4 linked regions of the Homo sapiens genome follow. The protein of the gene in region 1 purifies or fractionates together with the protein of each later gene. This does not show direct contact. Each region holds a gene or a part of one and is shown in the gene's direction. Other genes may lie near its edges.

The links.
Region 2: the proteins of KCNAB2 (region 1) and ANKRD44 purify together in Homo sapiens (co-immunoprecipitation; one large-scale study listed by IntAct). This does not show direct contact.
Region 3: the proteins of KCNAB2 (region 1) and GAPVD1 purify together in Homo sapiens (affinity purification with mass spectrometry, with the first as the bait; one large-scale study listed by BioGRID). This does not show direct contact.
Region 4: the proteins of KCNAB2 (region 1) and ATIC fractionate together in Homo sapiens (co-fractionation; one large-scale study listed by BioGRID). This does not show direct contact.

The regions. Positions count from the first base shown.
Region 1 is NC_000001.11:6,095,591-6,103,322, forward strand, and holds the end of KCNAB2 (voltage-gated potassium channel subunit beta-2), read left to right. Parts: coding exon 1-34; intron 35-1,045; coding exon 1,046-1,166; intron 1,167-1,678; coding exon 1,679-1,767; coding exon of another isoform or gene 1,768-1,941; exon of another isoform or gene 1,942-1,965; intron 1,966-2,894; coding exon 2,895-2,984; 3' UTR 2,985-5,590; downstream 5,591-7,732.
Region 2 is NC_000002.12:197,119,968-197,127,406, reverse strand, and holds part of ANKRD44 (serine/threonine-protein phosphatase 6 regulatory ankyrin repeat subunit B), read left to right. Parts: intron 1-1,369; coding exon 1,370-1,570; intron 1,571-1,938; coding exon 1,939-2,026; intron 2,027-4,614; coding exon 4,615-4,757; intron 4,758-5,862; coding exon 5,863-6,075; intron 6,076-7,439. UniProt on the Homo sapiens protein: Putative regulatory subunit of protein phosphatase 6 (PP6) that may be involved in the recognition of phosphoprotein substrates.
Region 3 is NC_000009.12:125,295,887-125,303,325, forward strand, and holds part of GAPVD1 (GTPase-activating protein and VPS9 domain-containing protein 1), read left to right. Parts: intron 1-1,542; exon of another isoform or gene 1,543-1,634; intron 1,635-3,002; exon of another isoform or gene 3,003-3,003; 5' UTR 3,004-3,035; coding exon 3,036-3,220; intron 3,221-6,096; coding exon 6,097-6,940; intron 6,941-7,439. UniProt on the Homo sapiens protein: Acts both as a GTPase-activating protein (GAP) and a guanine nucleotide exchange factor (GEF), and participates in various processes such as endocytosis, insulin receptor internalization or LC2A4/GLUT4 trafficking.
Region 4 is NC_000002.12:215,316,577-215,324,015, forward strand, and holds part of ATIC (bifunctional purine biosynthesis protein ATIC), read left to right. Parts: intron 1-1,580; coding exon 1,581-1,657; intron 1,658-3,088; coding exon 3,089-3,155; intron 3,156-7,439. UniProt on the Homo sapiens protein: Bifunctional enzyme that catalyzes the last two steps of purine biosynthesis.

The DNA.
Region 1 (7,732 bases):
TGGCATCCCACCCTACTCAAGAGCCTCCTTGAAGGTGAAGGAACAGCCTGGTGGGGAGGGACGGGCAGGGGATAGGCATTTTGGACGGGTGGGACCTTTGGGCCGACTGCTTTGGTGCTGGGCAGGGGTTCCGGGAGCTGCAGCTGTTCCCACCTCGGTCTGCTGGGGGCGGGCTCCTTGGCGTGAGAACATGGAGCCCCTCCTGGCCTGATCCCATGTGTAGAGGGGCTGCCCAGCCTGTGGCACAGGCCCAAGTGGAGAGGCCCTTTCACATCCCCCCCCCTGCCCCCACCACATCCCCCCATCTCTACCCCCTACCACATCCCCCACCTCTGCCCCCCACCACAGCCCAGCATTCAGAACTCTGAGACCCCTGGGCCTGGGCTCCGAGATGGGGGCTGCAAAGCCACATGGAGGTGACCCTGGGAGAGGCGCCCCTCCCCACCACACAACCTCTGAGTGGGGACTCAGGAGGGTCCCCAGACTGCAGGATCTGGAGAACAAGGAGCAGGCCAAGAAAGTCTGCCCAGCCAGCAGTCTCAGCACTGGGGCCCACAGCCCTGGGTTCCAGGGCAACGTGGCCTGGCCCCCGACTCCTCCCATCCCATGGCAAGGTCAGGGCCCCCCTCCAGGAGGCCCTGCAATCCTCTGGGGGGGATGGCCAGGGGAGAGAGCACTCCCCTAGGGCCAGGAGGTTCTTCTGGGCCACGGGTGGCAGCCGAGACCCCAGGCTGCCAAGTTTCCTAAGAGAAGGAAGGCCAGCACCTCGCCTCCTTGTCCTGACTTGGGGTTGGGCCAGCACCACAGTCTTTGCACTTCAGAGCCTGGACAGGCCCCGCTCATCCACCAGCCCGTGCCCGGCCCACTGCCCACTCTCCCCTACTTGAGAGGCCTGGGGCAGGGGCACTGCCCTGGCTTCAAGATGAGAAGAGCCCCTATGAGGGAGAAGGGTCCAGAAGGAATGAGCCCATCGGCCCCCTGCACGTGGGGGTCCAGGTGACCTGCTCTCATCTGTAGCTGTGCTGCTCCCCTCCCCCGCAACCAGGGCTACCAGTGGCTGAAGGACAAGATCCTCAGTGAGGAGGGCCGGCGCCAGCAAGCCAAGCTGAAGGAGCTGCAGGCCATCGCCGAGCGCCTGGGCTGCACCCTGCCCCAGCTGGCCATAGGTAACGGTGGGGTCGCCATGGGGCCAGTGCCCCTGGGGAGAACCTGCCCCAGCTGGCCGTAGGTAACAGGGTGGGGTTGCCATGGGGCCAGTGTCTCCGGGGAGAGAGGGAAGGGATCCCTGGACATCATCCCCCAGCCAGCCTCGGGTAATCGGGCTCTAAGGGGCATGGTTGGGACCCCATGCCTCTAGGGGGATGTCAGGAGTCCCTGAGGACCTGGGCCACCCCCTCCATCTGCCAGCCATAGGTAATGGGGCTCCCGCTTTCATGGGAAGAGGATGGGGAGCGCTAAGCACTTGGGCCACCTCTCCATCAGGGAGCAGCGGGCTCCCCCATGCCTCCTCCAGCCACCTCTTAGACAAAGCCCGTGCCCAGCACTGCAGGGCTTCCTAGACCCCCTCAGACCCCCAGACCAAGATGCTGGGTCTCTCGGCCCAGTCAGAGGCAAGGCAGACCCATCAGGGGCCCCTGTGGTGGGTGTTTCTCCCTCACCTTGGGTCTCGCCGCCACAGCCTGGTGCCTGAGGAATGAGGGAGTCAGCTCCGTGCTCCTGGGGGCCTCCAATGCGGACCAGCTCATGGAGAACATTGGGGCAATACAGGTAAGAGTGAGAGGCCCTGCTGGGCAGAGGGCCCATCCCAGCCCGAGCCCCGTCCAGTGCATCCTCCCAGGCTCGTCCTGCGTGCCAGGCTCTGTTCTAGGCACTCAGGATGCGCCCGTGAACCATCAGAGTTGTGCTCCTGGAGAGCTTGCTTTCCAGCAGGAACAGACATGAACACTAACTGCACGAAACAAGGAGGTTAGAATGTGTGTCAGGGTGGACGAGCGCTGTAGGAGAGAAGCCAGAGATAAAGGGAGGGAGCTGGGGCCAGGGACGGTGGCGCTGCAGACTCAGGTTCAAGGGGGCCTGTCAGGTGGGCTTGTTGAGAAGGTGGTGCTTGAGCAGTCTTGAGAGATGCGGAGTAAGTCACGCAAATGCCTGCGGGAAGAACCTTCCACCAGCAGGAAGAGTTGATGCAAAGGCCCAAAAAGGCCTGGAGCAGAGGGGCAGATCCTGAGAGGCACGAAACACCTCCAGGGACTTCTGAGTGAGACGGGAGCCGTGGCAAAATTGTGGGCAGAGGAGGGCGAGCTGCAGCTCAGCCTGGAAAGGGAGGCTGCTCTCCGGCTGCTCCATCGGGGAGGCTTTGGGAAGCAAAAGTCGAAGCAGAGAGCCCTGGTGGGAAGTGGCAGCTGCGGGTCCGAGACGGGAGTGGTGGTTGGATCCTGGATGTTTGGGAAGGTGGGGCCCCCGGGACTGGCTGACAAACTGGATGTGGGGGTGAGAAGGCGAGGTGGAAGTCGGTCCCCGGGTGTGTCACCCGGAAGGGTGGCGGTGCTGTATGCTGAGGCAGGCGCAGCTGGAAAAAGCAGTCACGGACATGGAAGTCCAGCATTTGGCCTGGAGTTTCCATTTTATGTCACTGCTGCCACCACCCTTCAGGAAGGTTCTAGGGCACCTTGACATTTGAGAGGGAGTGCACAGACCCAGGCATGCTTCCTCTCTGCCCCAAACCTTCTGAAACACAAAAGCAGCGTGGCCTCCATCTGCCTCAGATGGAGCCCAGATGTGATGGGGCAACCCGGGCCTGGCCAGCCGACCATCTGGAAGAGCCTGGCCCCACCTCCTCCCCAGGCCAGGCCCGTCTTGTTGGTGGGATTCTGATTTGTTGTTGTTCTTGCACGCAGGTCCTTCCGAAACTGTCATCTTCCATTATCCACGAGATTGATAGTATTTTGGGCAATAAACCCTACAGCAAAAAGGACTACAGATCCTAAGCCGCCCCCGCCCGCCTGCTCGGACAGTTTCCGTTCCCTCCTAGTCTCTGTTCGCTCGCTTAAGCTGTTTTGAAGCCAAGTGAAGAGTGTGGTTTGCATCCAAGAGAAAACACCACACTGTGATGTCATCGGGAAATGATCTCCCAAGTCGCTGCCAGACACCACCCACTGCTTCGCCGGACAATGTCGAAGTCCAGTCTGTGCCGGGGAAGGCACTGGTTAGGAAGGATGTTCAAACGGTCCCACCCAAGCCTGTCACCTCTGCTCATCCTCCAAGACCACCCAGCTTTCTCCCAGCCACAGCCAAGATTCCCAAAGTCAAGGCCCAAAGATTTCCAAGGTTCCCAAAGTCAAGGCCAGGCCAAGGCCTGGTTGGGTCCTTGGGGCGGGCAGGGCCAGCCTCTCCTCTGCTGAGAATCCCCACTTGGTGTAGGGGGAGAGGGGAAAGGGGTCTGGCCCATCGAGGGGCCCCTTCTGCCAGGGCCTTGGTTGCTGGGGCAGGGCCTCCCCACTGGGGGTCTTCCTCCACCTCCCACTTTCCAAGGGCTCCAGGAATCTGGGGCCTGACCACAGATTCCTCTCCCATCCTTTTCTGCTCCAACCTGCCCCACTGGGTCCCGGCAGGGGCCATGCCTACCAAGCTCGAGCTGGCCCTTGACCCCCACCCACCCCCACCCTTGCTGGCAGGGGCAGGGACCCCAGGGGGATTGACTCTGCAGTTTGGGAGCCACAAAAAGCGTAGCGGTGTGATTTCTAGCTCAGCCTCCCACCGTCTTCCTCCTACACACCAATGATGAGCCTCATGCCAGTGAGGCCCGGAGCGCTTGGGAGGGGTCCCAGTGGGGCAGGCCCCTCTGTCTGGCCACCCCTCTGTCCTGGCCCCGGAAGGCCCTGTGGTCATGTGCTCCTAGCTGCACGGTGGCTGCTGGCCACACCACGGCAAGTGGCAGCAGGGGCCGGCCCTGTGCACAAGGATGCACTCCTCTCGGCCCCTGTAGACTTTCTCTAAAGCCGCCCGCCAGCCCAGGCCGCTGCTCTGCACCGAGCTGGTGGGCTTGGGTTTTGTGGAGCGCATGCTTGGACCCTTTCAGTAAGGAAGGGTCTTTGGGGTTTTCTGTGCCCATGACTTGGGGGCTGCACCCCCACAGCACCCCCACAATGTAGGAAAAGACCTCAGGGAACCTCTCCCTGGAAAGACGGGCAGGGCTGGTTAGCCCCTCCCACTGCCTGACACCTGGGACAGGCTGGGCAGAGGGGAGAGAGGGCAGGACAGGCCAGAGTGACGCCCCCGTGCAGCTTGGGCCGGAGGGCAAGGGATGCCAGTAAGTCTGCAGGTGCGGGGTGCCACCTACAGGCCCAGGCCTGTGTCCCAAGCAGTACCCAGGCTTTGCAGACCACGCGGGGCAGGGCTCCACTGAAGCCACCCCCACCCCTCGCCAGCTAGCTCCATAGGGAAGCCTGTGTCTCCTGCCCCCAGGGCGCACCCTCAGTGCAGGCACCTCTGTTCCCGCTTTGCCCCTGGAGGAGCCACTATTCCAGAAGGCTCCACCCTGCCGTCCTGCGGGAGCCTGCTGTCCAGTCCTGGCCGGGCCAAGGCCTGGGAAACTGTGAAAGTCAGAAAGGCCAGCGGGGAGAGGCTGGGGCGAGGGGAGGAGGGGGATCAGCTTCTGCTATTACCGACCCCCCTTCATGCTGCCCCTGGCGCCTAGAACCCTTGCCCCTCCTCATAGACCAAGTCCCGGGGGTCTCCACTCAGTCCTGCTGCCTGCTTCACCAGAAGCAGCCCTGTGAGTGTGGGGTGGGGAAGTCCCTTCCCAACGGAGGTCCCAGCCTATGGCCCTGGGCCCAGGTGGGGGTCGCCTGCTTCCTTCCCGGACAGGGTCCTGCAGTGGCCAATGGTGCCAGAGGGCAGGTGGCCCACCCTCGCCATCAGGGAGGGTGGCTGGCCCCATCCCCACTGCCACCCAGCCCCACCCACTGTTGGAAGAGGGACCAGCGCGAGGTGGTGCCCAGGGTGGGCACTGCTGCTTAATGCGAGGCACACCTGGGGCAGCTGAGCCCCCAAAGGCTGCGGGTTTGCCAAACACAGAGAGGCCAGGCCCCAGTGTCAGGATGCAGTCAGCCTCTGGCGCAGCTCTTTCCACGACCTGGTTCCTGGATGTCCTGCTTGCTCCACACCCATCTACAGGGAGGATGTGAGGGGGCTCTGCCTCCTAGGGCCAGGTCCCCCCTCTCGGGAGGAGGTATTGGGTAGGACCATCCAAGAAAGGGCAGAAGACCAAGGGCAGTCGGGGTCTAGAAAGGAGGGCGCTGGCCCTGCTGGACGCTTCGGAGCCCCCACTGTTTCCCACTCAGCTTTGTGCTCAGATCCCAGGTCCCAAGGAGTGACAGGGGCTTCCTCCCACCTTCTGTCCTTGTCCAGTCATGTAAATAATGTGCTTTTTCTCTCCCCGAGTCTTTTTTTTTAAACCTACCGTGGTTCCTCAGCTAACTGCATTCCCTACCCAGGCAGAGACTGTCCTATGCCTCGAGCTTCCAAACGAGACTCAGACCGCGACACAGCCACCGTATTTATGGAATGACAAAATAAATAAAGCCCAAACCCATCGGTCTCTGTGACTTTTTGCTCCTCTCATTTCCTCAGGGTCAGGGCTGGGCCAGGGTGACACGGGAGGGGAGGAAAAGGCTGCCAGCAGCAGGGCCTGGGGCATCCCCCAAACCGGAGCCTGCAGCCAAGGGCAGGTGGGTTGGAAAGGGCCCGTGGAGAGAGAGCGGGGACAGAGAATGGGGACAGGGTGGTCAGAAGACCTGTCCCCCATCTCTCCCAAGCGATTCAGCCAAGGGAGGGTGCGTGCCTCCCCTGCCGCCCCCAACACACACATTCTCTTTCACCAACTCTGAGGGCCCAAAGCTGCTTGCTGGGAGGCTGCTGTCCCTCTGGGGACCTGGCTGGCTGCTGTTCTCATAAGGACAGAGGTCCAGGCCTGGGGAAGCTCTCATGGTATGTGTTTGGGGTACAGGTGAGAGGGGCCTCACCCCAGCACACCCCTGTTTCGGGCTCCCCTCCTTCCCAGTGAGCCCCTGCACCCGTGAAATGACCATCCCAGGCAAGAGAAGGCTTCCGGACACGCCCCCACCCCCCACCACTCCTCCCTGGCCCCAGCCCCCACCCCCATTCTAAATCTTGAATCTTAAAAAGAAAAAGCCTCTGATTAAATCCTTTCCCAAAGGATTTATTAAAACACAGAAAACCAAAACATACACACAGAGTACAAAGTAAAGGTGATTGTGTTGGCTACAGCCTCTGTCCAGCCTCCCGTGGGCGAAGACCAGACAAGCCACGGCTCACAGGGGAGCCTGGCTTCCAAAGCTGGACCCGCCCCCGCCGGGGCCACCCTGGCTGGGACTCCTGGCGCGCCTTGCACCCAGCCCAGGGCCCTCCCTTTGCCAGCCTGGGGCTGTGCCTGGGGAAAGGGGTCGGCCCCCTCTTAGCTGGGCCTGGGCCGGTGGAGTCTGCTCCCTCCACACCCCTGAACTCAGACCCCACGGGCCAGTGGGGACCCTCCCTTCCTCTCCAGGGGTGCTTGGGCTCCAATCGCTGCTTGAGGAGTTCAGGACACACACACACACCCAACGGGCCCTTTCTGGGTTATCGCACCTAAAAAAATACTTTGTTTAAAAAAAAAATCTGAAAATTAAAGAAAAAAAAAACACAACGCCAGTGAGTTTGGGCTGATGCACCACAACCTGTAAACTTTCAGACACAGAAAACAGGACAGGAACCAGCTGCCGAGGCCGAGGCGGGCCTTGCACAGAAGAGACTTGGGGGAGGGGCCGAGGCCAGGTCACCAAGACGGTGAGGGCAGAGGGGCGTGCCAGCCTCGGCCCCCACCCACGCCCTGTCCCCTGCCCACAGACCCTGACGCACACTGGAGGCTCCAAGTGACCGACACTTGACCAAGTCCATCTGGCTTCTGGCTCCCATGTACCCGAGCCCACTCTCCACTCCACCTCCTTGGGCCTCAAGTGTCCTGGGATGACAGGAGTGAGGGCTGCAGGTGTCACCGGGCCAAGGCTTGGTCAGCTCCTGACCTCGGCAGGGGAGCACCCGGGGGACTCTGGGAAGGCAGCCCCCAAAAGCAGGAGGACTTCAATCATAGGGGGCAGGGAAAGTCCAGCCTGCCCCTGGGGGAAGCCAAGTTTGCAAAAAACGCAGGAGCTTCGGAAGGTGGCTTTCACGGGGGACGCTGCTTCTGCCTCAGGCGTGTATGAGAGGGCCCTGCAGACGTGCTCACTCCACCCCGAGTCACCTGAGCCCATGGGGCAATGCCTTCCAAGACCTTGGCTCAAACATGGCTCTGCAGAAGCCCTACTCAGCACTGGCTTAAAGTGGCTGGAAATTTCCAATCGCAGACTGGCACTTTGGGCTCGCGTTCATGCCCGAGGACCCTGATTCTACCAGCAGCAAAAACCAAACCCAGCCCAAAGACGCCAAACATACGGACACCACCATCACCACTTTTGGCAGAGATGACTGACAAACCAAGAAGGACATTCTCAGATCTTTTCTCCTCTCCCAAACTGGTCAGCCCCAAACCCGCTCTGACTCTAGTAGCCCACCCCTCCCGGGCCCCGGGGTGCTGGCCACGGACAGCACCACCCCTTCTGGACCAGGCAGTGCAGGGGGCCCAGGCCCAAAGGAGCCCTGGCCAGGCTTTCCTGGGTGCCCGAGTCTAACCAGGCAGAGG
Region 2 (7,439 bases), on another chromosome or scaffold:
GCAGTTTTTAAAAAGGTAGTTATCTGTTTTTAATCAAAGCTTTGTTTTTGCCAAAATATTATATTAAATTTCTATTATATGTATTAAGCCAGTGTAGCAGACTAAAACTTTAGGATTTAAAAATGTAAATAACTAAGGAGAATTAACTGTTGAATCTATTTATGTCAGGATGCTTGACTGAGACTACTCACTGAGTAAGCCTAGTAGAAAATGGCCTGTTAGAAAATGCAAGAGCCCATAAGTCAGCCAGGCTGACAGGTCATTGCCCTGGACTTCTGTCATCTTGCCTATAAAATAAAGCTGCCTATGAAATGAAGGGGTCAGCTCAGATGAACCTTAGGGCTTTCTCCATTTCTAATATTCCATATGTCTGTGAATTTAATTCCATAATCATTTTAAACTACTGTATTTTTTTTTTTGAGACAGGGTCTTGCTCTGTTGCCCAGGCCGGAGTGCAGTGTCATGATCACAGCTCATTGTGATCACGTCAAACTCCTGAGCTCAAGTGATGCTCCCACTTCAGCCGCCTGAGTAGCTAGGATTTAGAGAGGTCCACAACACCACTCCCGGTTGGTGCAAAAGTAATTGCGGTTTTTGCCATTAAAAGCAATGCAATTACTTTTGCACCTGTATATATGTTTGTCGATTTTTTTTTTCTTCGTTAGAGATGGGGTTTTGTTATGTTGCCCATGCTTGGCTTCTGTGCTTTTAAGAGCTGCATGGATGACTCCATTGCATAGCCAGGGTTGAAAGTCATAGATCAAGAGGTTAGGGAGCTGACTGGGCCAATAGAAGAAAAAATGTGGGAGGCCCAATGAAGGTGAAGGAACTCAACAATGGCAAAAGAAGTGACCCATTATAACATGGAAAAGATGGAAACAACTCATAGCTTTAAGTTGAGATGGTAACAGAGATGTTACTTCCCGTCTTGACCACTTATTGATCACACGATGCTGAGGGTTAAGATGTTGGCAGAGAGAACCAAAGATTTATAAACTGATCCAAGAATGTCTGAGGTCTTTTTGTCTATGGTTATTTTACCCTGGTATGCACACTTGCACATGGGTGTTCTCATTTGGCCTAAGAGTGCCTTCTACATTGTAAGGACATCATCATATACTTAGAAGGTTTATTTGATTTTAGAGATGTGCCGGGGCTCTTGGCTTGACAAAGAAAGGTAAAGTGATTCTGTCTTTATCTTTGCCACTCTTTTGATCTTTACCAAATATTACCTGGCTTGTCTGGAGCCAGCCTGTAGGGTTGGGGAGCCTTTCTCTCCATAGTTCCAGGGTTTGGTGAAGCATCTTACACCAGTAAGTATTGATTGAACGTCTGTCAGTGACCTCTGCAAACTCTGCTTTTGTTGTAGGAAGCAGTACAGGTTTTGATTAAGCACTCAGCTGATGTCAATGCAAGGGACAAGAACTGGCAGACCCCTCTTCATGTGGCAGCAGCCAACAAGGCTGTCAAATGTGCAGAAGTGATCATTCCCCTGCTGAGCAGTGTCAATGTCTCCGACCGAGGGGGGCGCACAGCCTTGCACCATGCGGCTCTGAACGGCCACGTGGAGGTGGGTATTTTTATCATTCAGAATTGGAACGCTCCCTCCAGGACTTTCAGCCACAAGTGGAAACTGATCTTCTTGCTGAGATTTTAAAGAATGTGATGAAAATATTTGTACACCAAACCTTCAGCATCTATATCATTCTCAACTTTAGAGCCACAATGAATTGAAAAAGTAGGCTGTCACTTCAGTCTTTTCCTCTGACACACATGACACATGTCCTGCTCTGACATCATATTTCTACTTTGTCAGAACTCCAGATCTCTGACCTGCCTTTAGATTTCATGTTAATTTGGCTCAGATCATCTGCAGGCAGTGAGGAGGCCTCACCATTACAGAATGTATGCTTGATTTCATTGTTGGTTATCTTTCAGATGGTCAATTTACTCTTGGCCAAAGGGGCAAATATCAATGCATTTGACAAGAAGGACCGGCGTGCTCTGCACTGGGCAGCATACATGGGTAAGGATTCCATGCATGGAAAGCAAAGTACAGATAACCTTAACTAAATAAGCCATGGGTCTCTCATTGACCATGTAGGTTTTCTCCAGTCTGACTTCTTTTCAAGCTTGGGTTGCAATTGAATGAAGATTTGGTTGGTTTTACTGGCATGCATAGTGCACTCCAGTCGGGCAGTTGCTTTGTCAGATATTTATTTATCCTACAAAGAAGAGGAGGAATGAATCATGGCTTGGGCCTCTTTGAATGTGCTTCAGTCTGGATTGGAAAGCTGCACAGATTGTGCTTATTTTAACTTGTCATGGCAGTAAAATAAGGTGTTTTAAAAAGAAAGAGCACTGGCTCGGAAAGCAAGGACACAAATTCCATTCGTCTTTTTAAATTTATAAATATTTTTGAAAGAAACAAAAAGAAAGGAAGAAAAGACAAACCTCTGGCTATTTTATAGATGGAGGGCACCAGAGGCGCTGGTGATTATCCTGATAGTCCACTGACGACAAAACTGAAGCCTGCAGCCCTCATTTCTACCCGCTTGGGAGAGTTCACATTTCTACGTTTTTCCTTTTCACTTTTGTTGGCAAATCCCACTGACAAATGAGAGATCTCACAGAGTTTATTCTAAGTGTAGACTTGTGGGAAATGAAGAACTAAGATATTCCCTTTGTGTTTCTAATTGGAGAACATCCTGCCATTAGAAAAATAGACAGGATTCTATCAGCACCAAGTTGTAAACAACCTGAATGCCCATCCACAGGAGATTGTTTTGGTAAATTCTGGAAGATCCACACAAGGGGACACTTTGCAGTAACTACAGTGATGAGTCCATGAGTGTTTATTAACACAGAGTCTGTGATATGTTAAATGAAAGCATATTATAAAACAGTATAAATAATATAATTCTCATTTTCATTGAAAAATCTGTACAATAACAAACTTGGAAAATATTATATGCTAAAATTTTAATTGATTGTCTTTGGGGATTTATGATTGTGGATGATTTTGGTTTTCTTTTAATACCTTTTTGCCTTTCTGAATCCTTTTTAACAAGCATATGTGCCTTTTATCATCACTTTAAAAATTAACATTAATTGTAGGGAGAAAGAGTAGGTTGGGGCAGGGATGAAATAAATTATGTGGCTAAAGGTGGGTCTGAGTGAATCCTTGGGCTTAAAAAAACAGAATCTTAAACTTTTACAAGCATTAGCATTTAAAAAAAAAAGTTGACATGGATTTTTGAGTTGGCTGAAGCATATGAAATGACTGCGTGGCACCTGCAGGACTGGAGCCAGTGACTGTGGGAGACAGCTGTGTAGGCCGAACACACACTAAGCTAGTGTGGATAGGACTCAAAGAATGCAAAGTTTCACGATTGCTCTCTGCTGATGTATATACAGTTAAAGCATTTGGATAAATGACTCTAAAGAAATCAAATCATTGTTTTGTGTGCTGTCAGGATACAAATAGGAATAATAGGCAAAACCAGGGCAAATAGCTTAAGATAGCAGCACTAATAATCGAAAAAAATTTTTTCTATATAAAGTCTTGGAGAGAAAAGAGTCAAATTTTAATAAAACAAGCCAATACTTTCCCCCCACCCCAACACACACACAAAGTCCTGGAGTCAGTACTTGTCTTCTACCCTTCAATTTTCAGCCATATTTAGAGCAATGATCCTGAAGCATTGAACAATCTTCAGTCCCGAAATAAAGGTCAAATATGCTTGTTTCTTTGTTTATTTATTTATTTATTTTTTGAGACAAGGTCTCGCTCTGTTGCCCAGGCAGGAGTGCAGTGGTGTGATGTCGGCTCACTGCAGCCTCTGCCTCCCAGGTTCAAGTGATTCTCATGCCTCAGCCTCCTGAGCAGCTGGGACTACAGGCATGTGCCACCATGCCCAACTAAGTTTTGTATTTTTAGTAGAGATGGGGTTTCACCATGTTGTACAGGCTTATTCTATATATAGTGAATTATGGAACAGAGTAAAATATTGTAGAAAAAAATGCTAACAGGAGCTAAAACTAGAAGGGTTTTCTGTTTGGCCTCTAATTCATGAGGATACTTTTAAGTTGAGGCATATGTAATTGCCATTTTTGTGGGTCCAAATACAGTTGAGCAGCAGTAATTTTATATGATTAAACAATAATCTGGGGTCATTCTCATTAATTGTTTTTTTTTCTTTTATCAGTTTTTCCTAACTGAATTGTCATTGTTAAACTTTTCAGTGAGGAATGGCAATTGTTTTCAAAAGCATTGCTTTCATTTTAATACAACATTTTTAAAGGCTCTCTACTAATATCTTGGCAAAACCTCACCATTATTCATTAGTGTGGTAACAAGCATCACCTAGATCTCCTTGAAGAGAAGGCTCACATATGAATCATCTTTTTTCTCCCCACAGCTTTTACATTATGCCTGACTATAGGAGGTACTCAATAAATATTTGTTGAATAGTTGCCATGAACCAGCTTTTTACAAATAACTCAGCAAAATACTGGTGGCGATGAAAGCTAATAGTTGATAATTTAGGTGAAATGAATCAGCAAATTGTCCTATAAAGGTTAACGATGTTTTCTGCTGCTTTGTTTGTAAAGGCCACTTGGATGTTGTAGCATTGCTCATTAACCATGGCGCAGAAGTGACCTGTAAGGATAAGAAGGGTTATACCCCTCTGCATGCTGCAGCCTCCAATGGACAGATTAATGTTGTCAAGCATCTCCTGAACCTGGGGGTGGAGGTGAGCTATGATGAATGCATCAATGCATGGCCAGTGTATTTGTAAGATTTCTGTTATTCTAAAGTTAAATCCTGTTTGCACTTTAATTCAAGGGCAGGGGAATTGTTTTCTAGCATCCTGTCTTTTTGAGTTTTTGTGGGCAACTGATGAAGGGCAGTGGGGGCATACACTAAGCAGAGGAAAACTGGAAACTGAATAACTTTCTATATCAACATAGATAAATATATAGACATAAAGATTCTATGTAATATATATTAACCAGTTGTTCTTAAAGACTGGCCAAGGTTCTGCATCCCACCTTCCAAATGTAGCCTTCTAAGTCATGACTTACAGCAGAAATGAATGAATAAATGGCAGAGACAAACAGCAGCAATGTCTACTCTTGAGCTGGAAAAGGCAGACTGCTGCCTTCTCTTTCTGCTGGTAGAACAGGAGCAGTGGTGAGGCTGGAACATCCTGTCCCCCAAGAAAGGAAAACCAAGTTGCATCATTATGGAAAACCATAATGAGGAAACCAGGCATCCAGGGCAGGTCTCAGAAAGCAATAGGGAGCCGTGGACGAAACACACCTCCTGACGGCACCACTGCTCTGCTACTAAAATGCAACCTGGTGAGGTGTCGGACTCCAGAGCAAAACAGAGAGTGGATTCTGACCCGCCTTCCATGTTTAGACTCCACAGCCACCTCCCCTGCCATCTCCGCAGCCACTTCCTCTGCCATCCCCCACCATTTCTTGAGGTTTTCTGTGCCCCAATCCTAGAGTGTGGGACTCTTTTCATTCTCCTCTGATTTACTTCTCTTTTGGTGTTTTGAAAGCAGCTTTGCCCTTCACCTTTTATTCCTTTGTTAGCTGAAAAATACCTCTCCCCAGGATGAAACTTCTCTGTCTCCAGTTCATTTTTTGCCACATTGACTTTTTGCTGATCTTTACCATGGGGTGACAAGCATTCCCAAGATGACCACACTGGGGCAAGAGTAAGCTCTGAACAATTATATTGGCGGATGGCTATTTCCTTTCTCTAGCCACAGCCGTTATGCTTTTTGTGGAAAATGGAGTAAACTGGCTCTAATGACTTTAATCACCCTGTGTTGGACTCTTTTGCAGATTGATGAAATCAATGTCTATGGAAATACAGCGCTTCACATCGCCTGCTACAATGGACAGGATGCTGTGGTTAACGAGTTGATTGACTACGGTGCTAACGTGAACCAGCCAAACAATAATGGGTTCACCCCTTTGCATTTTGCTGCTGCCTCCACTCATGGTGCTTTGTGTCTTGAATTGTTAGTAAACAACGGGGCAGATGTTAACATTCAGGTATGACACTCTTAGTCTCTGTGTTGAATGCCTTTGCATTGAGCTTCTGTTTGAGCAAAATCAACTGCTGCAAATTATGCCATGTTTTAGTGAGTTGGAACCTCACAGCCTTGTCCTGGATTTGGAGGCTATAAGAAAAGTTGTCTGGAGGCTGAGGCAGGTAGATCATGAGGTTAGGAGTTCAAGACCAGCCTGACGAAGATGGTGAAACACCATCTCTACTAAAAATGCAAAAATTAGCCAGGCGTGGTGGCGGGTGCCTGCAATCTCAGCTACTCGGGAGGCTGAGGCAGAGAATTGCTTAAACCCGGGAGACAGAGGTTGCAGTGAGCTGAGATTGTGCAACTGCACTCTAACCTGGGCAACAGAGCAAGACTCCGTCTCAAAAACAAAAAAAAAAAAGTTGTGTTATTTTTCTTCAGGAGTGGTGGTATCAGCTGAAAGGTACCAAGGCTCCAGCCGTGTGTTCTTGTTAGCTTAGTGAATGTGTCAGGACAAATACTGGATCTCTAGGATATTGACTTGCCCAGAAGCTAATACTGAGGTGAATGTTGAGCTGATAGGGCAGTGTTGCTAAGAATTCAAAGGAAGGCCTAATAATGATTGTAGGCCTGTTTCCAACTCCAGTGTGGGTTTAGAGCTTCTCAGATACCTTCTTTCTTTTCTTTCTTTTTTTTTTTGAGATGGAGTTTTGCTCTTGTCACCCAGGCTGGAATGCAATGGCGTGATCTCAGCTTACTGCAACCTCTGCCTCCCAGGTTCAAGCGATTCTCCTGCCTCAGCCTCCCCAGTAGCTGGGATTACAGACATGCACCACCATGCCCAGCTAATTTTTTGTATTATTAGTAGAGATGGTGTTTCACCATGTTGGCCAGGCTGGTCTCAAACTCTTGGCCTCAAGTGATCCACCTGCCTCAGCCTCCCAAAGTGCTGGGATTACAGGTGTGAGCCACTGTGCCCAGCCAATACCTTCTTAAAGCAAACCCCAGATAGTGGCTTCAGTGATGTAGCACTGAGCTGGTCATCACAATCATTCCTTTATTCAGCAAATTTACTAAGGACTACCCAGTGCCCTCTGTTTGGTACTGAAAGAGTGCTCTAAGATGAGATTCAGTCTCTGCCTTTAAGGAACTTACAGTGTAGTAGGGAGGTAGCATGCACTCAGGTAATCATGAGCAAGAGAAGATATGATGAGAAGAGTCATAAAGCATTGCAAACTCTAAGAAGCAATTGTTGACTTGTTTTTTGCTTGGGAATAAAAAATGGAGATCGATTTTGAGGGGAGACTTGGAAGATTAATGTAGTTGAGTTGAGGAGGGATAGAGATAATTTGAGAGAGAGTGTTCCAGATAGAACAGCATGAG
Region 3 (7,439 bases), on another chromosome or scaffold:
AGATTAGGCGATTTGGCTAGGCTCCAGCGAAACTCAGTCATATATTTGTTCAATTACATTGAATTAAGCAGCAAGAAAGGCACAGTTTGAGAATTTCTAAAGTATTTTACCCCATTTTTTAATTATGAAAAATTTCTAACATACAAAAACCATTGAAAGATAGCACAGCGATCATTATATACCTACCACCTCAGTTCAACAGTTTATATTTAGCTATATTTAAAAAAATTCTCTTAATGTTTTTGCTGAACCATGTACAAGTTGCAGACATCCTAACACTTTCTTTCTTTCTTCCTTTTTTTTTTTTTTTGAGAGAGAGTCTTGCTTTGTTGCCCAGGCTGGAGTGCAGTGGCACAATCTCGGCCCACTGCAACCTCCACCTCCCGGGTTCAAGCAATTCTCTGCCTCAGCCTCCCAAAGTGCTGGGATTACAGGTGTGAGCCACCACACCCGGCCACATATAGTTCTTAGGTTTTTTTTTTTTTTTGAGATGGAGTCTTACTCTGTCACCAGACTGGAGTGCAGTGGCGCGATCTCAGCTCACTGCAACCTCTGCCTCCTGGGTTCAAGCAATGCTCTTGCCTCAGTCTCCTGAGTAACTGGGATTACAGGCATGTGCCACCATGCCCGGCTAATTTTGTGTTTTTGGTAGAGACCAGGTTTCTCCATGATGGTCAGGCTGGTCTTGAACTCCTGATCTCAGGTGATCCCCTTGCCTTGGCCTCCCAAAGTGCTGGGATTACAGGTGTGAGCCACTGTGCCTGGCCTTTTTTTTTTTTTTCTCCTATTTTTTTGGAGACAGTCTCGTTCTGTTGCCCATGCTGGAGTGCAGTGGTGCGATTTCAGCTCACTGCAACCTCTGCCTCCTGGGTTCAAGTTTCTCCTGTCTCAGCCTCCTGAGTAGCTGGGATTGCAGCCACCTGCCACCACGCCTGGTGAATTTTTGTATTTTTAGTAGAGACAGGGTCTCACCATGTTGGCCAGGCTGGTCTCAAACTCCTGACCTCAAGTGAGCCACCTGCCTTGGCCTCCCAGAGTGCTAGGATTACAGGTGTGAGCCACCGTGCCCAACCCAAGAAATTTTTTGCTAACTTGATGACTGTCTGCTGCCCAGACACACAATATTATGTTTTGTTATCTGTGCCACAGGTATTTCTGTTGTTGATTTAACATTTGTGATCTGGCACAAATTCTAGATTCAAGGGCATAGCTTAAATAATAATGCTTTAAAATATGTGTGCTATTTGTATCAGTTTGTTTAGCTGCTAGATAAATAAGAGTAGTGAGATTTCATTTATTCCTTTGGCAAATATTTATTCAACTCCTGCTGTGAACTAGGCCGTCTCCTAGTCCCTGAAATTACAGCTGTGAATGAACAAAGCAAACAAGGCTTGGCCCTGCTGTCACTTACCTTCTAGTGGGGAAGCCTCACAATAAGCACGATTAACATGCAGGTAGATATCTGTAATATAATGCTAGATAGGGGCAGTGCTTTTTTAAAAGGCCAGAAGAGGGATTAGGAAGTTATATTTTCTATTTTAGAAGGAGTTGTCTGAGAAGGCCTTTCTAAATACACGTTTGAGTGGAGAGATCTGAATGGAATGAAGATACTGGATAACCTTCCAGACAGAGAGGTCAGCAAATGTGGACACTTTGAGAGAGGGACATGCTTGGCCTGTTCAAGGAACAGCAAGAAGGCAGATGTTCTGGAGCTGTGTGAACTAGGGTGGGATTGTAGGAGAGGAAATTGGAGAAGTAGCCAGGGGTAGATCATATAGGACCTTCAGATTTCATTCTATCATGAAATAAAGCCTGTGGATGGTTTCCAGTAGGGGAATGAAGTGATCTGACTTAAGTTTTGTTTTGTTTTGTTTTTTGAGATAGAGTCTCACTCTATTGCCCAGGCTGGAGTGCAGTGGCATGATCTCACCTCACTGCAACCTCCGCCTACCAGGTTCAAACAATTCTCCTGCCTCAGCCTCCCGAGTAGCTAGGACTACAGGTGTACACCACCACACCCAACTAATTTTTGTATTTTTAGTAGAAACGGGGTTTCATCATGTTAACCAGGCTGGTCTCGAACTCCTGACCTCAGGTGATCCACCTGCCTTGGCCTCCCAAAGTGCTGGGATTACATGCGTGAGCCACCGCGCCCGGCTGTGATCTGACTTTTTAATTCACTATGCTATGTAGAGAACAGACTCTAGAAGTACAAGAAAGGAAGCAGCGAGATCACTTAGGATGTGGTGATTATGCACCTCCTAGTGAGAATTGATGTGATTAGCAATGGAGGGGGGAATAAGTAGTCAGATTTTAAATATATTTTGAAGATAGAATCAACAGGATATTTTGATTGTGATTAGAAAGAGCACAGTCAAGGATAACTCTGGGGTTAACAAATAGACATTGTATTTGAGGATATACACAGGGTTTACAGCACCTGTCTCTAAGCGGTGGCCTTAGCAGTGAGCTTTTTTTTCTTTTTGCTTATCTGTATTTACCAATTTTTCTATGCTGAACCTGTAATACTTCTGTAATAAAAAGATAGAGATTATTTGAAAATTAGAGTTAAAAGTGGCATCAAATGTAACCTAATTTTTTTTTTTTTTTTTTTTTTTTTTGAGAACGATTCTTGCTCTGTTATCAGGCTGGGGTGCAGTGATGCAATCTCAGCTCACTGCAACCTCTGTCTCCCGGGTTCAAGGAATCCCCCTGCCTCAGCCTTCTGAGTAGCCGGGACTACAGGCGCGCCCCACCGCACCTGGCTAATTTTTTGTGTTTTAGTAGAGACAGGGGTTTCACCATGTTGGCCAGGGTGGTCTCGATCTCTTGATCTTGTAATCCGCCCGCCTTGGCCTCCCAAAGTGCTGGGATTATAGGCATGAGCCACCGCGCCTGCCCAAATGTAACTGAATTCTTAAAGTATTCTCCTGTCCCTTTTGATTTTAGAAAAGAACTTAAGTGACATACATAAACTTTAAATCTTTATCTTTTTACTCTTAGTGATCAGCCTTTGAGCCTTTCCCACATTGAAGATGGTGAAACTAGATATTCATACTCTGGCTCATCACCTCAAGCAGGAACGCTTATATGTAAACTCTGAGAAACAGCTCATTCAGAGGCTCAATGCAGATGTACTTAAGACAGCTGAAAAGTTGTATCGTACAGCATGGATTGCGAAGCAACAGAGAATCAATTTGGATCGGCTTATCATAACCAGGTAAAGAGATGATTTTCAGGTTTTAAGTTTTGTGAACCACTATGATTCTGTAAATAAATTAGTAACTATAAATAAATGAATCTGTTTCCAACAAAGTGCATTATTTAAGATAATTTACATCAATGTTAAGGTGAGTCTTTGCTTATAATACAGTTTATTTGGATTATTAAGTAACTTAGGCACTTTTATAGAAAATTGTAACTTAAGCATTGACATTTTATATCACACCAATTGGTTTTGTGTCTTTGTCTATATAAAATGTTATTGTTGGCTGGGCGTGGTGGCTCACACCTATAATCCCAGCACTTTGGGAGGCCAAGGCGGGTGGATCATGAGGGCAGGAGTTTAAGACCAGCCTGGCCAAGATGGTGAAACTCCGTCTCTACTAAAAATACAACAATTATCTGGGCATTGTGGTAGGCGCCTGTAATCCCAGCTACTCGGGAGGCTGAGGCAGAGAATTGCTTGAACCCGGGAGGTGGAGGTTGCAGTGGGCCGAGATTGTGCCACTGCACTCCAGCCTGGGCCATAGAGCGAGACTCTGTCTCCTCAAAAGAAAAAAAAAATGTTGTTGTAGAGAGTAAATTATCTGTTCTGCTTTTCTCCTAATATTATTTAATATATAGGTTTCCAGCTGGGTGTGGTGGCTGACACCTGTAATCCTAGCACTTTGGGAGGCCGAGGTGGGTGGATCACGAGGTCAGGAGTTCAAGACCAGCCAGGCCAAGATGATGAAACCCCATCTCTACTAAAAATACAAAAATTAGCGGGGCATGGTGGCATACGCCTGTAATCCCAGCTACTCGGGAGGCTGAGGCAGGAGAATGGCTTGAACCCGGGAGGTGGAGGTTGCAGTGAGCCAAAATCGCACCACTGCACTCTAGCCTGGGTGACAGAGTGAGACTCTGTCTCAAAAGAAAAAAAAAAAAAAAATATATATATATATATATATATATATATATATATATATATATATATATATATATATGTATTTCCATGTTTTGATATTGTATAGCTATTTTTCGGGTTTAGAAACCACATTTTATTGTCTTAATACCTACGAAGAACATTTATTTTATTTTTTTTTTTTTTTGAGTTGGAGTCTCGCTCTGTCCCCCAGGCTGGAGTGCAGTGGCACAATCTCAGCTCACTGCAACCTCTGCCTCCTGGGTTCAAGAGATTCTCCTGCCTCAGCCTCCTGAGTAGCTGGGATTACAGACTTGTGCCACCATGCCTGGCTAATTTTTGTATTTTTAGTAGAGACGGGGTTTCACCATGTTGGTCAGACTGGTCTTGAACTTCTGACCTCGCAGTCTGCCCCCTCGGCCTCCCAAAGTGCTGGGATTATAGGTATGAGCCACCCTGCCTGGCCAAGAACAGTTTTTAACTCTAAGAATATCAGTGCTGTTGAGAATATAAGCCAGATGCAAAAGAATACATACTGTATGATTCTATTTGTATGAAGTTCAAAAAGAGACAGGACTGATCTTTGATGACAGAAATCAGAATAATGGTTACTTTTTGGGCTTGAGAGGGTGGTATTGACTGGGAAAGGGCACGTGAAAGCGTTCTTGGGTTTTTAAAATGTTCCATGTCTTAATCTGAGTGGTGATTACTGGGTGCATGTATGTGTAAAAATTGTTCAAGCTGAACACTTGACATTTGTGCACTTTACTGTATTTTACCTCAATAAAAATGAGTTTAAAAAAAAAAAAGAACAGTGCTGTTGTGGGCATTGTGGTTTTTTCCCCACATCTTTTAGGCTTATTTTATTTGGATTTGTTTCCAGAAGCAAAAAGCCTAGTTAAAGGATGTGATTCTGCAGGTCATTACATACTGGCATGTTGCTGTTGAGAATGGTTGAGCAATATGCTGATATCGACTTCATTTTTATTATTTTTTAGTACTTGAGTATTTGTAAACTTTCTTATGTCCATAAATAAGCATAAGCAGTTTAACTGTAGCTGATTTTTTTTTTTTTCAGACAGGATCTGGCTGTGTCGCCCAGGCTGAAATGCAGTGGTATGATCTTGAGTCACTGCTGTCTCAAGCTCCTGAGCTCAAGCGATTTTCCCACCTCAGCCTCCTGAGTGCTGGGCCTACAGGCACACGCCACCACATCTAGCTAATTTTCATATTTTTTTGTAGAGATGGGGTTTCACCATATTTTCCAGGCTGGTCTTGAACTCCTGGGCTCAAGTGATCCTCCCACCTTGGCCTCCCAAAGTCTGGGATTACAGGTGTGAGCCACTGTGTCCTTCCTGTAGCTAATTTTAATTTAATCCATAAGAGGGCAGCTCTGGACAGTTTTTAGGATCTACAAACTGATAATTTTCTTTCTTTCTTTCTTTTTTTTTTTCCAGACAGAGTCTTGCTTTGTTGGCCAGGGTGGAGTGCGGTGGCATGATTGCAGCTCACTGCAACCTCTACCTTCTGGGTTCAAGTGATTCTCCTGCCTCAATTTTCCAAGTAGCTGGGATTATAGGTGCCTGCCACCATGCCTGGCTAATTTTTGTATTTTTAGAAGAAATGGGAGTTTCGCCGTGTTGGCCAGGCTGGTCTCGACCTCCTGGCCTCAAGTGATTTGCCCGCCTCGGCCTCACAAAGTGCTGGGATTACAGGTCTGAGCCACCGCACCCAGCCCCAATACTTTTCATTGATTCTGATTTGATAAGAGGAAATTGTCCTTTGTACTTTTTAGTTTTGTTGTCCTTTACTCATTGAGTTGCTGTTAGTTTAAAAAATTTTAGCAATTCAGAGTGACCTCATTGTTGGGACCATAATCAACTCACATATCCATGTTTGGATATAGTATATGTGTTATTATTATTAATACTATTATTTTGCTTGTTTGCTCTTTTTTTTTTTTTTTTTAGTGCTGAAGCTTCCCCTGCTGAATGTTGCCAACATGCCAAAATTTTGGAAGATACACAATTTGTTGATGGGTATAAGCAATTGGGATTTCAGGAGACTGCTTATGGAGAATTCTTGAGTCGATTGAGGGAAAATCCTCGTCTTATTGCCTCCTCTTTGGTTGCTGGAGAGAAACTTAATCAGGAGAACACACAAAGTGTTATTTACACAGTTTTTACCTCCCTGTATGGCAATTGCATCATGCAAGAAGATGAAAGCTACCTCCTTCAGGTTTTGCGATACTTGATTGAATTTGAACTTAAAGAAAGTGACAACCCTAGGCGACTTTTGAGGAGAGGAACTTGTGCCTTCAGCATCTTATTTAAACTTTTTTCTGAAGGACTGTTTTCTGCCAAACTTTTCCTCACAGCCACTTTACATGAGCCAATTATGCAACTGCTTGTTGAAGATGAAGATCACCTGGAAACAGATCCAAACAAGCTAATTGAGAGGTTCTCTCCATCTCAGCAGGAAAAACTCTTTGGAGAGAAGGGCTCAGATAGATTCAGGCAAAAAGTTCAAGAAATGGTGGAGTCCAATGAAGCAAAGCTAGTGGCTTTGGTGAACAAATTTATTGGTTATCTCAAACAGAACACATATTGTTTTCCACATAGTTTAAGGTGGATCGTGTCTCAGATGTACAAAACCCTCTCCTGTGTAGATAGGCTGGAAGTTGGGGAGGTCAGGGCAATGTGTACTGATCTCCTGTTGGCCTGCTTCATTTGTCCTGCAGTTGTCAATCCAGAACAATATGGAATAATTTCCGATGCTCCTATTAATGAAGTAGCACGATTTAATCTGATGCAGGTATGCTTTTGCTATTATTATTAACGTGGCATTTAGTTTAAAATTCAGTTGATTGGGCTGTGGGGGTGGGAACAAATAATACGATGACAGTATTTGTATATTCTTACAACTTTTTCTCAACCAGTCCTAAGTATTTGCATCTTATTAAATAAAAGCAGTAATACTGGGATTTAAAATTATTGCGGTCACAAAACATTTTGTCTTTGTCTGTTTTTTGAGACAGGGTCTCACTCTGTTGCCCAGGCTGGAGTGCAGTGGCGCAATCTCAGCTCACTGCAACCTCCGCCTCCCGGGTTCAAGCAATTCTCCTGCTTCAGCCTCCTGAGTAGCTGGGATTACAGGCGCACACCACCGCCCTGGCTAATTTTTGTATTTTTAGCCATGGGGTTAAAATTTAGGTCAGGCTGGTCTTAAACTCCTGACCTCAGATGATCCGCCCACCTCGGCTTCCCAAAGTGCTGGGATTACAGGCGTGAGCCACCACTCCTGGCCTTGGGTG
Region 4 (7,439 bases), on another chromosome or scaffold:
AAACTATATATGTTGATTGTAGAAAATTCGAAAATATGGACAACTATAAAGAAGGTAGTAAAAATGGATTGTAATTCTTAACATGCTAGTATATTTTTCTTCAAGCATTTTTATAAGCATGTACTTTATTTCATAGCTTACACAGAAGATAGATGCAGTTTTGCTTCCTGCTTTATTTATTTTTATGTATTTATTTATTTTTTGAGACGGAGTTTTGCTGTTGTTGCCCAGGTTGAAATGCAGTGGCACAATCTTGGCTCACTGCAACCTCCGCCTCCCGGGTTCAAGCGATTCTCCTGCCTCAGCCTCCCAAGTAGCTGGGATTATAGGCATGCCCCACCATGCCTGGCTAATTTTGTATTTTTAGTAGAGGCGGGGTTTCACCATGTTGGTCAGGCTGGTCTGGAACTCCCTTACCTCAGGTGATCCATTCGCCTTGGCCTCCCAAAGTGCTGGGATTACAGGTGTGAGCCACCCCACCTGGCCCCTGCTTTATTTTTTCTTATATATTGTGGGCATTTTTACACACCATTACAACTTATAAAGTCTGCCAGAGTGTTCGTGGTTACGACTTTCTAGGGGTCTGCTTTGTGATATGGATTAATATTTACTGTCCTTCACTTGACCCTTTGTCACATTGTGTGATTATTTTTTCTAGTTTACTTTTTTTTCCCATGTAAAACTTTTTATTTAACATTTCTGTAATCAGAACTCTCAATCTTTTGTTTAAAACTTGGAAAGCATTCCTCACATATTTAATTTTGCTACATGCATGATTTTTTAAATGCTAAACCTTTGATTCATAAGGAATATATTTTTGTTTGGGTTTAACCCGTTATTCCAATAGCAACACCACTTTATTAAACAGTCTTTTATGTCTTCACTCACTTGATATGCCATCTTCATGTGTTGTTGTTGTTGTTTTTTGAGATGGAGTCTTGCTCTGTCGCCCAGGCTGGAGTGCAGTGGCATGATCTCGGCTCACTGCGACCTCCAACTCTTGGGTTCAAGTGATTCTCCTGCCTCAGCCTCCCCAGTAGCTGGGATTACAGGTGCCCGCCATCACGCTCGGCTAATTTTTTGTATTTTTTTAGTAGAGCTGGGGTTTCATCATGTTGGCCAGGCTGGTCTCAAACTCCCCTCCTCAGGTGATCCACCTGCCTCAGCCTTCCAAAGTGCTGGGTTTACAGCCATGAGCCACCGTGCCCGGCCAAGGATATTTTTAATGCTTTTTGTTACATACTGCCAAATTCTCAGTTGTATGTCTTAGTAATATTTAATGAGTATGGCTTATGATTCAGTTTCTAAATGCTCTGAAAATTATAAAACCAGTGCTGTAGTAGTTACCAATTATCCCTGAACATACACAACAGTTAGGAAATAAATTAAATAAACTTTTTTTCGGAAGTAAATAGAATTTTACTTAAGAAATAAAATATAGTGAAATACTTTAAAAAATCAGAATTTTCACGTTGAATTCAGGCTCAAAATCTCTTGAAATGAAAACAGTAGATGCTTTGAATAGTGAAAATTACAATTCAGCCACACCAGTAGTACCATTCTGTTTATCTGTTTTTCAGAGATGTCTCTGAGTTGACGGGATTTCCTGAAATGTTGGGGGGACGTGTGAAAACTTTGCATCCTGCAGTCCATGCTGGTAAGTGGTTGGTATCTTTAATGTAAAAACAGTCAGTGGTTTCCAGGAATATTTTAGTTGATAGCGTCCTAAAATAAAGGAAGAAAAAGGCTCAAGAGAAATTTACATATAAAGTTAATGTTATGAAGTTGCTGCCAGATTTCATAATACGTTAGAACTGGTTTAAAATCCAGCTTGTCTTACTACTTGATGAATTCAGATTGTTTTCCTCTGCTTGCTATTAGTCCTGACCTGATACCTAATTTAGAGTCTGGTGTTTCCTGCTCAAGTTGCTGAAGATATTTAGATTTCATCGTATGAAAATACTTTTAAAATAGTTCAAACTTAGAAGAAAGCATCACAGCGTAACTGACTTGCAAAGGAATTTTTTTTTTCAAAGTGCTTTACATTTGTTCGTTCACCTAAGAATGAATTGTATATAAACCGAAACGGCAAGAAACTGGTATCCTCCTAGTTTGTCAGTTGTGGTACAATTTGGTGAATAAAGCTGAATGGCTACAGATCATCAGACAAGCCATTGACTTACAGAAACGCATAGACTGTTCTGGAACTAGCAACAGTTTTGTAAAATTCCTTTTACCTTTTTTACATTTTATTGCTCAAGAAACTGGGATCAAGAACTGAAGAAAAAGATTTTTAAATATATCTCTCTTTTTTTTTTTTGAGACAGGATTATACTCTTGCCCAGGCTGGAGTGCAGTGGTGCGATCATGGCTCGCTGCAGCCTCTGTCTGCTTCCCAGGCTCAAGCAGTTCTCCCACCTCAGCCTCCCAAGTAGCTGGGACTATAGGCATGTGCCACCACACCCAGCTAATTTTTGTATTTTTTATAGAGACGGGGTCTCACCTTGTTGCCCAGGCTGGTCTCGAACACCTGGGCTCAAGCGATCCCCCACCTTAGCCTCCCAAAGTGCTGGTATTACAGACATGAGCCACTGTGGCCAGCCAGATATATCTGTTAATCCTAATTTTTTTGTTTGATAACTCCCCAACTACATGTTTGATATTCTTTAATTAAGAATATTATGCTGGGCATGGTGGCTCTTGCCTGTAGTCCCAGCACTTGGAGAGCTGAGACAGGAGAACCGCTTGAGCCCAGGAGTTTAAGATCACCCTGGGCAAGATGGCAACACCCCCCTTCTCTTTAAAAAATTGAAAAGACCAGCTGGGTGTGGTGATGCATTCCTGTAGTCCCAGCTACTTGGGAGGCTGAGGTAGGAGGATCACTTGAGCCCTGGAGGTCAGGGCTATAGTGAGTTGTGATTACGCCACTACAATCCAGCCTGGGCGATAGAGTGAGACCATCTCAAAAAAATAAATTTTTTTTTTAATCAATGGGATTTAATTTGATTGAAGACACTATGTTGAAAGACATTCCTTAATCTGACTTGTTTTTTGAAGCTAATGACTTTGTTTAACTTTTTTAAATTAGGAATCCTAGCTCGTAATATTCCAGAAGATAATGCTGACATGGCCAGACTTGATTTCAATCTTATAAGGTAAAAACCTGAAATTAAACTTTTAACACATTACGAACCAACGACAAAGACTATGCCAAACCTGGTGTCCCTGTGTTTTCTTACTCACTATAAACCTTTACTGCGTACCTTCTGTGTGACTTTGTATGTGTGTAAGCATTTTGGTTTGGCCAGATTTATATACCAAAATACATACTGAAGTTTTTTAGGAAGTTACAATCTAAATCTTAGTATGTATAGGTTGAGTATCCCTTATCTGAAATGCTTGGGACCCAGAAGTGTCTTGGATTTCAGATTTCTTCAGATTTTGGAATATTTGCAGGTAACATGCCAGTTGAGCGTCCCTCAGAAATCCGAAATGCTTCAGTGAGCATTTCCTCCAAGTGTCATGTTGACGCTCAAAAAGTTTCAGATTTTGGAGCATTTCAGATTTCAGGTTTTCATATTAGGAATTATCAACTTGCACAACTAACTGAGTTATTTGCATAAAGATACTGGCTGTTTCTCTTAAATATACGTAACAGCTTTATTGAGATCTAATCCACATACCATACAACTCACCAATTTAAAATGTACAAATCAGTGGTTCACAGAAGTTGTGCAACCATTACTGTGTTAGTCTGTTCTGCATTGCTATAAAGGAATACTAGAAGCTGGGTAATTTATGAAAACAGGTTTATTTTGGCTCGTGATTCTATAGACAGTACAAGAAGTGTGGTGCCAGCATCAACTTCTGGTGAGGGCCTCAGGAAGTTTATAATCACAGTGGAAAGCAGAGGGGGAGCTGGCATATCCCATGAGAGAAGAAGCAAGAGAGAGGGAGAGGAGGAGTTGCCCAGCTCTTTTACTTTTTAACTTTTATTCTTAATTTAATTTAATTTTATTTTGAGACAGGGTCTCGCTCTGTTGCTCAGGTTGGAGTTCAGTGGCATGACCTTGGCTCACTGCAACCTCTGCCTCCTGTGTTCAAGTGATTCTCCTGCCTCAGCCTCCTGAGTAGCTGAGATTACAGGCGTTTGTCACCACGCCCAACTCATTTTTACTATTTTTAGTAGAGATGGGGTTTCACCATGTTGGTCAGGCTGCTCTTGGAACTCCTGACCTCAAATGATGCACCCACCCCGGCCTCCCAAAGTGCTGGGATTAGGTGTGAGCCACCACGCCCGGCCTGCCCGGCTCTGTTAAACAACCAGCTCTACATGAACTCAGAGTGAGGACTCATTATGGGGAGGGCACCAAGCCATTCATAAGGGATCTCCCCCGTGACCCAATCATCTCCCACCAGGCCCCACCTCCAACATTGGGGATCACATTGCAAAATGAGATTTGGAGAGGACACACATCCAAACCATATTAATTGCCACATCCAATATTAAAACATATTCATCACCCCCACCCTAAACCCTATACCCATACGCATTTATTCTCCATTTCCCCAACGTCCTCCAGCCTCGGCAACCACCAATTGTTACGTGTCTGATTTGCCTGTAGTGGACATTTTCATATAAATAGAATCTAACAATATATGGTTTTTTTGTTCCTGGCTTCTTTCACTTAGCATGTTTTCAAGGTTTATCCATGTTATAGCATAGTATCAATAGTTCATTTCGTTTTTAGTGCTGAAAAATAATCCATTGTGTGGTCATACCCTGTTGTTTATCAGTTCATTTGTTGATGGACATTTGGGTTGTTTCTACTTTTTGAATATTATGAATAATGCAGCTATAAATATTTGTGTATAAGTTTTTGTGTGGACATACACATTCGTTTCATTGGGGTATATACCTAGGAGTGGAATTCCTTGGTCATATGGTAACTATGTTTAGCTTTTGAGGAACTGCGACCCTGTATTTCAGAGTGCTGCACCATTTTACATTTCCAGCAGCAGTGTGCTGGATGGGGCTCCAGTTTCTCCACATCCTCATCAACGTTACTATCTGTCTTTTTGATTCTAGTCATTCTAGGGGTTCTGAAGTGGCATCTCATTGTGGTTATAATTTGCTTTCCAAATAATGTGGAACACCGTTGGATGTGCTTCCTAGCCAGTTGTTTACCTCCTTTGGAGAAATGTCTGTTGAGACCTCTTGTCCATTTTTAGTTGAGGTATTTATCTGTTTATTATTGAGTTGTAAGTTTATTTCCTCTCATTCTATGGATTGTGTTAGCCTTTCTTGATGGTTTCCTTTGATCATCACAAGTTTTTTCTTTTTTTTGAGACGGAGTCTTACTCTCGCCCAGGCTGGAGCACAGTGGCGTCATCTTGGCTCACTGCAACCTCCACCTCCCGGATTCAAGCGATTCTGCCTCAGTCTCATGAGTAGCTGGGGTTACAGGTGCCCGCCACCACACTTGGCTAATTTTTTTGGATTTTTAATAGAGATAGGGTTTCACTATGTTGGCCAGGTTGGTCTTGAATTCCTGACCTCGGGTTATCTGCCCGCCTTGGCCTCCCAAAGTGCTGGGATTACAGGCTTGAGCCACCATGCCCGGCCCACAAAAGTTTTTAATTTTGATGATGTTGAATTTATTTTTTCTTTTGTTGCTTGTGTTAATGGTGTCATGTCTAAGAAACCATTGCCTAATCCTCAGTGATGAAGATTTTTGTGTATATTTTCTTTCTTTTTTTTTTTTTTTTTGAGATGGAGTTTCGCTCTTGTTGCCCAGGCTGGAGTGCAGTGGCGTGATCTCGGCTCACTGCAACCTTCGCCTCCTGGGTTCAAGCGATTCTCATGCCTCAGCCTCGCAAGTAGCTGTGATTACAGGTGCCCGCCACCACGCCCAGCTAATTTTTTTGTGTTTTTAGTAGAGACGGGGTTTCTCCATGTTGGCCAGGCTGGTCTTGAACTCCTGACCTCAGGTGATCCACCTGCCTCGGTCTCCCAAAGTGCTGGGATTACAAGTGTGAGCCACCGCACCCGGCGTGTGTACATTTCTTTTAAGAGTTATTTTAGTGTTAGCTCTTATACTTAAGTCTTTGGTTCATTTTAAGTTAATTTTCATATACAGACATGAAATAGAAGTCTTATTTTATTTTGTATGTGGCTGTCTAGTTGTCTCAGCATCATTTGTTGAAAAGACTGTTCTTTGCCCAATCGAATGGTCTTGGCACCCTTGGTCCATGTGCCTGCTGTTATGCCAGTACTACACTATTACTATAGGCTGGTAACAAATTTTGAAATCAGCAAGTGTGAGTCCTCCAACTTCATTTTTCTGTTTTTTGTTTGTTTGTTTGTTTTGTTTTGTTTTGTTTTTGAGACGGAGTCTGGCTCTGTTGCCCAGGCTGGAGTGCAGTGGCGCGATCTTGGCTCACTGCAAGCTCTGCCTCCCGGGTTCACGCCCTTCTCCTGCCTCAGCCTCCCGAGTAGCTGGGACTATAGGCGCCCGCTACCATGCGCAGCTAATTTTTTTGTATTTTTAGTAGAGACAGGGTTTCACCGTGTTCGCCAGGATGGTCTCGATCTCCTGACCTCGTGATCCGCCCGCCTCGGCCTCCCAAAGTGCTAGGATTACAGGCGTGAGCCACTGCGCCCGGCCCCAACTTCGTTTTTTTTATTCAAGATGACTTTGACTCTTCAGAGTCCCTTGCATTTCCACATGATTTTTAGAATCAGCTTGTCCATTTCTGCAAAACAACGCAGTTGGAATTTTCATAGGTATTGTGTTGAATCTGTAGATCAATTTGGGAAATGTTACCATCCTAAGAATATTAAATCTTCCAGTCTGTGAACATGGGGTGTCTTTAATTTCTTTAACATTGTCTTGTGAAGTAGAATTGTTTTCTTAATTTTTTTCTCATTCACTGCTAATGTATATTTTAATACAATTGATTTTTATATATTGATCATATATCCTGCGGCTTTGCTGAACTCATTTATTAGTGCTAAAAGGTTATTTTTGTGAATTTGGGATTTTCTGTATACTAGGTGGTATCATCTGCAAATAGATATAACTTCACTGCTTTCTTTCCAGTCCTGATGCCTTTTATTTTCTTTTCTTTGCTAATTGCTCTGGCTAGAACTTCTAGTACAGTGTTCAGTAGAAGTGGTAAGAATGGACATTATTGTTTTGTTTCTTTTTTTTAAGATGGCGTTTTGCTCTTGTTGCCCAAGGCGGAGTGCAGTTGCGTGATCTTGGCTCACTGTGACCTCCGCCTCCCGGGTTTAAGTGATTATCTTGCTTCAGCCTGGGGTTACAGGCATGTGCCACCTTGCCTGGCTAATTTTGTATTTTTAGTAGAGATGGGGTTTCTCCATGTTGGTCAGGCTGGTCTTGAACTTCCAACCTCAGTTGATCCATCCTCCTGAG